Homo sapiens: one gene and its partners. The protein of the gene in region 2 purifies or fractionates together with the protein of the main gene of each other region. This does not show direct contact. Each region holds a gene or a part of one and is shown on either strand. Other genes may lie near its edges.

Region 1 (2,855 bases), on a different chromosome or scaffold from region 2:
AACTAGCTGGGTGTGGTGGCACATGCCTGTAATCCCAGCTACTTGGGAAGCTGAAGTGGGAGAATCACCTGAGCCCAGGAGGTCGAGGCTGCAGTGAGCTGAGATTGCACCACTGCACTCCATTCTGGGCAACAGAGTGAGACCCTGTCTCAAAAAAAAAAAAAGAAAAAGAAAAAAAAAGTTTGCCTTGCTTTTTGTCTAGCCAGTGCTGCAAGCTGACCATCATTTGGTTGTTTCAGACGAGTTTCACTGGCATTTGCATGGCCTCTGCTGGTTATTGTGTGTCTCATCTCCAGGAGCTTAAACCCTTCTATAGAAGGCAATTCCTCAGTGACCCCTAAACCAGCCAGTAAGTTTGGTTTGCCTTCAATAGTTGACCTCAACTATGCATCAATAGGTACATGCAAACATCCAGCACTGCCATCATCTGTCTATGTAACCCTGGACCAAAAGCTACAAGAGAAAGCTTGAGTCTCTCTTCCCCATGTAAGAAAACCAACTGCCACCCCTCCAAAAATAATTAATGGAATACAAAGTTGATTTGAGTATTTTATTTATAAATGTACATTTACTATAAAAGCTGTTGCATTTTAGACAACTTGTTGTTTTTATTTTTTACTGTTTCTCAGAGGCATTTTAGAATAAATACTTTAAATGAAAGTTAGTATAACCGATATAGAACACTGGCCCACCCAGAGCAGTAACATCTTTTGGACGGACTCACATATGAGGTGGATCATTTCAGTTTGTTAAATCTTACACTGTGTATAGATAACTATAATATGTATTGCATTAATCACACTACATAGAAAGGAAATGTCATGGAAGTTCGCTAGTGAAAAACAAAAAGTTACCCATTATTTTTATTAAAGAGTAGGGACTAGCTTTTGGAGTATGAGAAAAAAAATCAGATATACTTCCTCAGGAACAATAAATCACTCACTTGCCTCACCTGTTTTTTAAACAAACACATTTACATTATAGCTCAATGGAGCAGAGCATTTTTTTTTTCCTGGGATCTCAAAGATTATTTGAAAAGAAATAGATCATACTCATTATGCTGCATTGGAAAAAACAAGATCTAGTCTGCCTAAGCTGCCATGTAACAGACTCCAAATGAAATATAAATCAAATATAAATAGAAACAGTTGGCAATTAGAATTTAGAAAATGTTGGAGATTATTCTGTGCTGGTGACTAGTGTTCATTATGGGAAAGCACATTTTGCAGTTGGAGAATGGGGCTTTATTTTTCTTGACTCGATTCTAGCTTCAATACATGTACAATGAGCCTCACTAAGAAATATGTATAAATGGGTTTGTGAAACCAGAAGGGAATGTGCAATATTCATGTAATCCTTACATAACGGATGGAGTTGCACATGTAAAAAGTATTCTATAAAAATCGGTTATGAATGACCATATTGTACATGTTTGTGCATTACTAGTGGTACTCTGCTAATATCATGCAAAGTGTAAACATCCACATTATCAAAATATTTAATAAAACATGCAGGTGGATAATCAAAATATTGGACTTGATCTGTACATTTTCAAAACAATTTTTCTTTTTAATTTTTTCTTTTTTTCTTTTTTTATTTTTATTTTTTCCTGTAAAACAGCAAACACCTCCATGAGAAGTCTTGGAAACTTGGAAGTGACTTCATCTCTCTTCAATGTACTGCATCCATAATTTATCGCCATGTGCAACAGCTTTGCGTTTTCTAAGGCACAATTTTTAATGAAATGATGTGTAGATTTCAATCTAATAACAGCTCATCCAAATGACAAATATGGTCGAAATCCCTCCAGTGGCTGAGGAAATTTCTGCACCTATATGGAACCCACATGCAAAGAACCCATCTAGCATGTAATAAATAATCGCTAGCCATACTCAATAAGACACGGAAAAATTATTGCTTACATAACAGAAAAACATCTACTTGACCCCCTTTTATGACTACATCAATCTATTAGGAGTGTATCCATAGTCTACATTCACAAAATGTCATCTTGACTTATTTGCCATTGATTTAAGGCAGAATAAATAGTCCCCCTTTCCCCAGTCTTAACAACAAAAAACAAAAAACCAGCCTGGAGATCTACATTGTGATGCTTTTTAATAACTTGACTCCTTTCTTGGCCAGCTGAAACTCGTCGCACAGGGCAGAAAATAAACCAGCTCTCCACAAGAGTTCCTCTCTAAACTTCTCCATGGGCAAGGTCCGGAGTTCTTGATAGCAAAAAAAGTGATGGAGAATGGAGGAGAGTAGGTATTCATTGAAGTGGGCAGGGCATAATCTGTGCTGTAGGTTCTTGCTGATCACAGACCAGGGGCTGACCACATCATATACCACATAGATTCTATTAAGATGGACTTAACGCTTTTCTTTGGACACCTGTGCTTCAGGCCCTTAAGGAGAACTTGCCAGCAAGGGTGAGCAGTGCTCACACCTAATGATGAACTTATCTCGGTGCCTCATCTTCCATATACCTCATGTTAAGTCTCTTATTGAAGACTCCTAATCTAGTGCCTCGAGAGAAGCAGGCAACAGAGGCCTGATGTCTGACATTGACTCTTTGGAAGATTAAACTTCCTCACAGATTTTGATAATGACTTTGGAAATGATGACTGAAATATTTCCCTCTGCTTTCTTCCTACCTTTGGGCAACGTCCCGGAGTGTAAATCTAGCTGATATTGCAAGGTTTTGCTTTATTTGATGAACCAGCCTATATTAATGACATAACTTCCAAGGTACACAGAATCTAATACTAACGGTGCAATAATTTATTGGTATAATTTCTACCTCCAAAGGTAAGTAACACAAATGTTTCAGGATTACAGTATATATTATC
Region 2 (3,661 bases):
GTGTCAGGATTCGAAATAGAAAAGGATTAGTCAAGGCTTGTGGGGAGAAGGCCTTGTCCCTGAAACAAAGTCACAAATAAGCCTTCAGTACGGGCTTTTGACAATGCCTGGGTGCTCTAGGGAAGCCATTAAAGAGGGAAAAAACCATTTTTTTTTCAGTGAAAAGTCTAGTACTTTGGTATAGTTAAACATTTCAGAGGATGGCGTGTCTGAGCCCCCAACCTAGGCGGCTGGTCACTGTAGTCACACTGACAACTTTGGCCAGAGCCGCTTGGGCACATAAGAATCCATACGGCCAAGAGGAGAAACTGCAAAAATGAGGGTTTGGGGAAGTGGGGAAGGGGGAGCTGGGATGGAATCCCAGAGGGGGACTGTACCCTTGTATGTGAAGTGTGGGTAGTGGGTGAGGGCCGTGAGAACTTCGATAGCACAGGGCCCATGTGACAGCTGGAAGGGTGAGAACATGAGAGGGAAGTGGAGAAGGGGCCTGGCCGCTGTGCTGGGCGTCTCCCTTCACCGGACCCTACTGGACTCCTGGAGTACTGGCTGCCCATGCAGCAAAGGTGAGGAGGCCTGGGGCCTTTACTATTTTTTTTTTTCCCCGAGACAAGTCTCACTGTGTTGCTCTTGCTGGAGTGCAGTGATAGGATCATAGCTCACTGTAGCCTTGGCCACCTGGGCTCAAGCCATCCATCCTCCCACCTTGGCCTCCCGAGTAGCTGGGATTACAGGTGTGCGCCACCACACCTGGCTTTTTTTTTTTTTTTTCGTAGTGACAGGGTCTTGATATGTTTCCCAGGCAGGTCTCAAGCTCCTGGCCTCGAGTGATCCTCCCACCTCGGCCTCCCAAAGTGTGGGGATTACAGGTGTGACCCACCACCCCGGCCCCCTTACTATCTTATTCTCACATCGAAATCCTACAAAAAGACTTCACCATCCTAGGTTTATCTGGTCCCAAGTTTTCTCTAGTCTAGGCCTTGCTGCTGTAGCTCTTTGTGGGGAGGGAGGGGTGCCCAAGGAGCCACTGGAGTTTTAGGTCTGAGGTGCAACTCCCTCTCCCTACATGTCCCTTAGGGACAGCCACCAGTGCTGACGGCTGCCTAGCCCCGCCATGCCAAAGGGTCTATCTCACTCTGTATATGAAGACTGTGCCTGAGGGTCCAGTAGGCACACCTGCAGCCTGCCTCAGGCCTCCTCCAAAAGGATATGTGGCAAATACGATTCCTACAACAATCGCAAGCCCAAACACACACACACATATACACATTCATTATTTCTTTATGGGCTCTCTTTCTCCCTTCCTCTCTCCAGTTCCCTGAGCTAAAAGGCAAGAGTTCAACACAAGATTTTTAAAAGACCTGACAATGCCCAGGGCTAAGCAGCAGGGCTCATGTGTTACCCTCTGAGGCTTGGCCACCCGGGGCTGCTTCCCCAGCCAGAAGTCGTTGCAGGCGTTCACTGCACATCAGAACACTCAGTCTGGGCAAATCTTTGGACACCAAAGTAATGTTCAAGCTGTGTTTGGGTTTGAGGCTGTCATAGCCTAGTTCTGCCCAACCTATTATTAATAACTGTCCACCACTCAAAAACAAGTTGTTGGAGGCTAAAATGATCACATCACAGAAACTCTGAGAACCATTTCTAAGCAATAAAAAAAAAATGGTTTTGTAAAACCTGTCACTACTCACCTCATGAATTAGACACTTGTCTATGAGCTGTAAATAGGAACTTATATTTTCCTCATCAGGTCTGGAGACCAAGAGCTGTGTGCACACTGTAATTAAAAAGAAAAGATGAATTAGAAAAATGCACCCCTTTCTAATCTCTGGGACCTGACTCTCATTTCCCTTCAGGTCCAACACTCTGAGAGGTATGTGTGTCTGTGGCTTTATGTAAGGCTCACAAAAAAGGCCAAGAGGCTCCTCATTCCACAGAAGTCAAAGGCTGGGTCACCGTGGGAGCCCTTGTCTCGAGAAGCCCCTTGGGTTAATTCCAGTCATGCCATTCTATATGAAGCCTTCTGCAATAAGACACTGCAATAAGAGGAAGAACACAGCAGTGAATAGTGGCGTCCTGAGCTTGGTCTTTGAAAGTGGCTCTGTGTGAGGGGCTTCAGAAGTATCCAAGACCCTGACACTGTCAGAGAGCAGCCTCCGTGATTTTATGAATGAGCGCACACCCCTCGCCAGGTGCAGAGACAGCGGCGTTTGTGTTTGGAGGAACGAGCTGGCACCTCCTGGAGACGGGGAGGTGTGTGGGTGTGCACATGTGCAGGAGGCCTGCTACTCACTCCTCAGAGGGTTGCTTTCTCAGAGTGATATGCACATTTATGCACACACAGGCGCAGGCTCACCTACACACTCAAGTCAGTGCTAAATAGGATGGAACAGAGTTAGTCTGCGGGTAGAGTATACACACGCACTAGGTTTCTCACGGCCATGTTACTGTGGCCCATTCTGGTCTCATTGTAGAGGTGACGATTCCCCGACTTTCTTAGTCATGTGTACAGGGCCACAGTGGAGATGGGTGGACAAAAGGAGTCAGCCAGAGAGTAAAAATGTCTGACACTCAAGGAGACCAAGCTTGAAACCTGGCATCATACTTGATTCCTCCCTGTCCCTAACCCTGCATGGCTGATTGGTCACACAATCCCATTTATTTCTTGCCTTTGCACATACACTTTCAGTATAACATTGTTTGTCATAACAAAACCTTGTAAACTACCTCACTGCCTATTAATTGGGACTTTGTTAAATACATTACGGTTTATGCATACAGTGGAATAGTATGCCATCTTTAAAAAAAACTTTGAGATGGCGCTATTTGTACTGATAGAAATATTGTAAGTATATATACTTTTTAAATTTTATTATTTTGTTTTTGAGAGACAGGGTCTCACTATGTTGCCGAGGCTGGTCTTGAACTCCTGGGCTCAAGTGATTCACTTTGGCCTCCCAAAGTGCCGGGATTACAGGCATGAGCCACCGTGTCCGGCTATAGTATTTTTTTTTAAACCCACCAGCCTGTAGAAAAGAATGTAAATAAGGCCTGCGTGTGTATAAAAGTGAATATTCGGCTGGGCGCGGTGGCTCATGCCTGTAATCTCAGCACTTTGGGAGGCTGAGGCGGGCAGATCACGAGGTCAGGAGATCGAGACCATCCTAGCTAACACGGTGAAACCCCGTCTCTACTAAAAAATACAAAAAATTAGCCAGGCGTGGTGGCGGGCGCCTGTAGTCCCAATTACTCGGGAGGCTGAGGCAGGAGAATGGCATGAACCTGGGAGGTGGAGCTTGCAGTAAGCCTAGATCGCGCCACTGCACTCCAGCCTGCGTGACAGAGCGAGACTCCATCTCAAAAAAAAAAAAAAGTGAATATTCATGTGCTTATGTATGATGATGAAGTTTCTGAAAGGATATCCCAAAACTTAATAGTGACTATCCCTGGGAATGAGGATGGCAGGGTTTGGGGTTGGGGGAGGGTGGTTTTCCACTTTCCACCATGTTGTTAATTTGAATTGTGTATGCTGAGTGTTAACTGGGGTTACAGCTTCCTTTAACGTAGGTAAAATGTAAAGAAGCAGGGCCATAGCACTGTGGGTCTCTCAGGAAGTAGGGCGATGTGCCGCGTGTTCAGTAGCTGCTCCACTTGGGCTTGGCAG
Region 3 (3,661 bases), on a different chromosome or scaffold from region 2:
TAAACATTCCTCTATTCACTGAATTAAAACATGTAGCTGCTGAAGTTTTTTAAATATATAGCTGTTTCTATACTATAAACATTGATTTTTAAATAGTTGACTTAATATTCAGTTACATACAGTAGTATATACATACAGTTCATGTATATATTAAAAGGACAGTATTAAATGATGCCTAGTTAAAGAGGTTTCTTATATTGTAATATACATAAATTGTATATAAATTGTATGAATAATTGTTTTGAAGAAGGCAGGAATCCTACTGATGTTAGCTAAGCAACTACAAGTAACAGATGGTTGTAAATGATACAGGTATTATGTGTGCATCACTTATGGAATAAGGTTGCAATTCAAGACGATTTCATAGAATTTTAAAAAACATTTTTATTATTATTTTAGAGGCCTTTTTAGTTTTATAAGCATTTTTGAAAACATACCAGGTTTTATGTCTATGTACTATTTTGTTGTGAAAGGATATGTATCATAGGTGATTAGGAATTTTAAATGTTCAACTGGACCTATGTCTACTCAAAATTTTTAAAATATATGACATAGTTTTTTTTGAAGTGTTTGGAAGTACATGTGTCACTGGATTTTTTTTTTGAAGTATTCTGAAACATTTTTAATAATGTATATTTGGAGAAATAAAAAACAAATTATTTGTGTCCTTAATAAATACATAAAAATTTATGCTGAGGAACCTAGGATACTTTTTCTCTTAAAAATATTGATTGCATGTAACAGCATATCAAAACATATTCAGTTGCTTCAAAATAAAGAGAATATATATATGTGTGTGTTTTAAAATTGAGCTGTGTATTTGTAGTTATGTATATTTATAGTTACATAACTCTACTTAAAATTTATTGGCAGTAATACCATCAAACTTTCTTGTAGTTCCTGTGATGTCACCAAATCCTCAAAAAGAAACACATGCCTAGGTGCTGTACTTTGTCTCTCTTTAGTCTCTCTTTAGACATGTTGATAAATGCTGTGAGATTCTGCTATTTGAGGATGGTATGTAACCATTGATGGTTTAAAATGACAGTCTTCATTTGATTTTCTAATGTTAATTTGTAATTTAAATAATCATATTTTTATGATGTGAAAATATATATTCTGACCCATGTTAATTGTGAAACATTGATATAGTTCAATAATGAATATTTTATTTTTAAAAAATTAACAAAATATGTAAGTATTATATTTGTGAATTTTGTCATATCTCACTGTTGAAGTTTTTAAAAAATGTTTAATAAAATAGGACAATTTTGATGATTTTATTTTTAAATATATTTAAGAATTTCTCGAGTAATACAAACACAGATTTGTTTCAAATGAAGTAAGGATATACGTGGTTAATACAAATTTGTTACGTCTAAATTCTTTTATTTTTTTTTTGAGGTGGAGTCTCACACTGTCACCCGGGCTGGAGTGCAGTGGTGAGATCTCGGCTCACTGCAACCTCCACCTCACGAGTTCAAGCGATTCTTCTGCCTCAGCCTCCTGAGTAGCTGGGATTACAGGTGCCCGCCACCACGCCTAGCTAATTTTTTGTATTTTTAGTAGAGATGGGGTTTCACTATGTTGGCCAGGCTAGTCACGAGCTCCTGACCTTGTGATCTGCCTGCCTCCCCCTCCCAAAGTGCTGGGATTACAGGCGTGAGCCACCGCGCCCGGCTTTAAGTCTAAATTTTTACTAAGGTGATTTCATAAATCAGAATATGATTATTTTGTAAGTGCAAGTAATTAATACTCTTACCAGTTTCTTATGTTTTTTAAAATCACAGTTAGATTGTAGGATAACATTTACATTACCTGGAAAATGTTACTGGCAGTTTTTTGAAATGTTAAAAGTTTTTAATAAGACTTAAATATTTGATGGTACTTTAGAGGAATAGAATGGTAATTAAATATTAGATCTCTTTTGGAGAAGGGCAACGTTAACCTAATAACTACCTGTTGATGTTTGTTATATAGGTTTTTCTATAGATTTTGATATTTATTTCCAAAGTCATTATCTTACCTAATAAGATGAAATGATCATTTGAATTTGATTTTGTTCTGGGAAGGTGTAGAATACATTCTCCTTATTACTCTCTCCTCAGCTTATGTGCTTAATAATACTTCACATATTGGGTGTATATATACTTGGCATTCCTTGCCATCAAATATGATACAATTGTTTACATAAATGTATTTCATTTATTTCATAATGTATGCATAATGTATGTATCTCTTTTTTTCTCAAAGAGAAAGAGTAATTTCAAAATGACTGCAATTTAGCTACCATTACTCAGTAGGCCTAAATATTTATTAATAATTTACCTTTATTCATCTTCATTTACCTTACAAGTATTGGTGTTTTCTTCTTATGGTCTTTATTTTTGAATTAGATTTTGATCTTTATGGATAATTCAAATGCCCACATTAGAAAGGCTTTATATATTTTATGTTCCTTTGCTTCAAAAATATCTCAAGGAGTAATGGAAATAGAAAAAATAAAATCATTATTGTTACTGAGTTAAAGCATTAACAGTATGAGATATGAAAACATTTAGAGATGACTAGTGCTTAAATATATGAAAAATTTCTTACACATAGTTCAATCAATTGATCTAATATAGAGTTCTTATGTATTTAATTAATTATACAATGTAGGAAAACAAATTTATTTCAGTATATTCATTTTTAAGGGCTTTTCGTAATATTTCATTGCTAATTAATTAACCATGTTTAGTTTTGTTATAGTTAAGCATAAAATCATTTTTCACATGAAGAATATGTGTGATTATTGTTATTCTCTGGGCTGCTTAAAATGCCAATTAAAAAAAATTAGACATCTTGGAAACTTGAAAATGTGAACATAAGCAGCTCATTTGTATAGTGAGTTACGTATTTTAATATTTTTAAAATGGTTTATAACCTACCAGATTTTTAAGATGAATTGCCCAGTTGACCATTTTCAGAGAATCTCAAGCTGAGTGCTTTAAGGCCGTTTAATCATAACATCACATTTAAAGGCATTTTATTTTTAATTTTTTTCTTGAGACAGTATCTGGCTCTGTCGCCCAGGTTGGAGTGCAGTGGCGCGATCTCTGCTCACTGCAACTCCGCCTTCCGGGTTCACGCCATTCTCCTGCTTCAGCCTCCTGAGTAGCTGGGACTACAGGCGCCCGCCACCACGCCCGGCTAATTTTTTGTATTTTTAGTAGAGACGGGGTTTCACTGTGTTAGCCAGGATGCTCTCGATCTCCTGACCTCATGATCCACCCACCTCGGCCTCCCAAAGTGCTGGGATTACAGGCGTGAGCCACCGCTCCTGGCCAGGCATTTATTATAAAACAAAATTTTATAAGATTTCTTAATGTAGCCCTAAAGATACTTTTGATTTTCAAGTGGTGGTGCATTTCTCAGACTCTTTTTCATGTATTTAAGTCCTACAAAGACATTCTGATTCAATTTAAATGTGAAATGTGAATTGGGTACATATTGAAGATGTAGGCCTTTCTCCTGTTTTAAAGATTATTGGTGTACTTCTTAAATATTTTTCTCCTGCCTTTTTAAAGAGCAGTTTTAGGTTCACAGCAAAATTAAGAGGAAAATACATAGATTTTTCCATGTACCCTTGCCCCTTCAAATGCATAGCATCCTCCATTAT

The links.
Region 1: the proteins of SAMD4A (region 2) and LIMCH1 purify together in Homo sapiens (affinity purification with mass spectrometry, with the first as the bait; one large-scale study listed by BioGRID). This does not show direct contact.
Region 3: the proteins of SAMD4A (region 2) and LIN28B purify together in Homo sapiens (co-immunoprecipitation; one large-scale study listed by IntAct). This does not show direct contact.

What each region holds. Positions count from the first base shown.
Region 1 is NC_000004.12:41,697,726-41,700,580, reverse strand, and holds the end of LIMCH1 (LIM and calponin homology domains-containing protein 1), read right to left. Parts: 3' UTR 537-2,855; downstream 1-536.
Region 2 is NC_000014.9:54,762,568-54,766,228, reverse strand, and holds part of SAMD4A (protein Smaug homolog 1), read right to left. Parts: intron 1,775-3,661; coding exon 1,689-1,774; intron 1-1,688. UniProt on the Homo sapiens protein: Acts as a translational repressor of SRE-containing messengers.
Region 3 is NC_000006.12:104,960,018-104,963,678, forward strand, and holds part of LIN28B (protein lin-28 homolog B), read left to right. Parts: intron 1-3,661. UniProt on the Homo sapiens protein: Suppressor of microRNA (miRNA) biogenesis, including that of let-7 and possibly of miR107, miR-143 and miR-200c.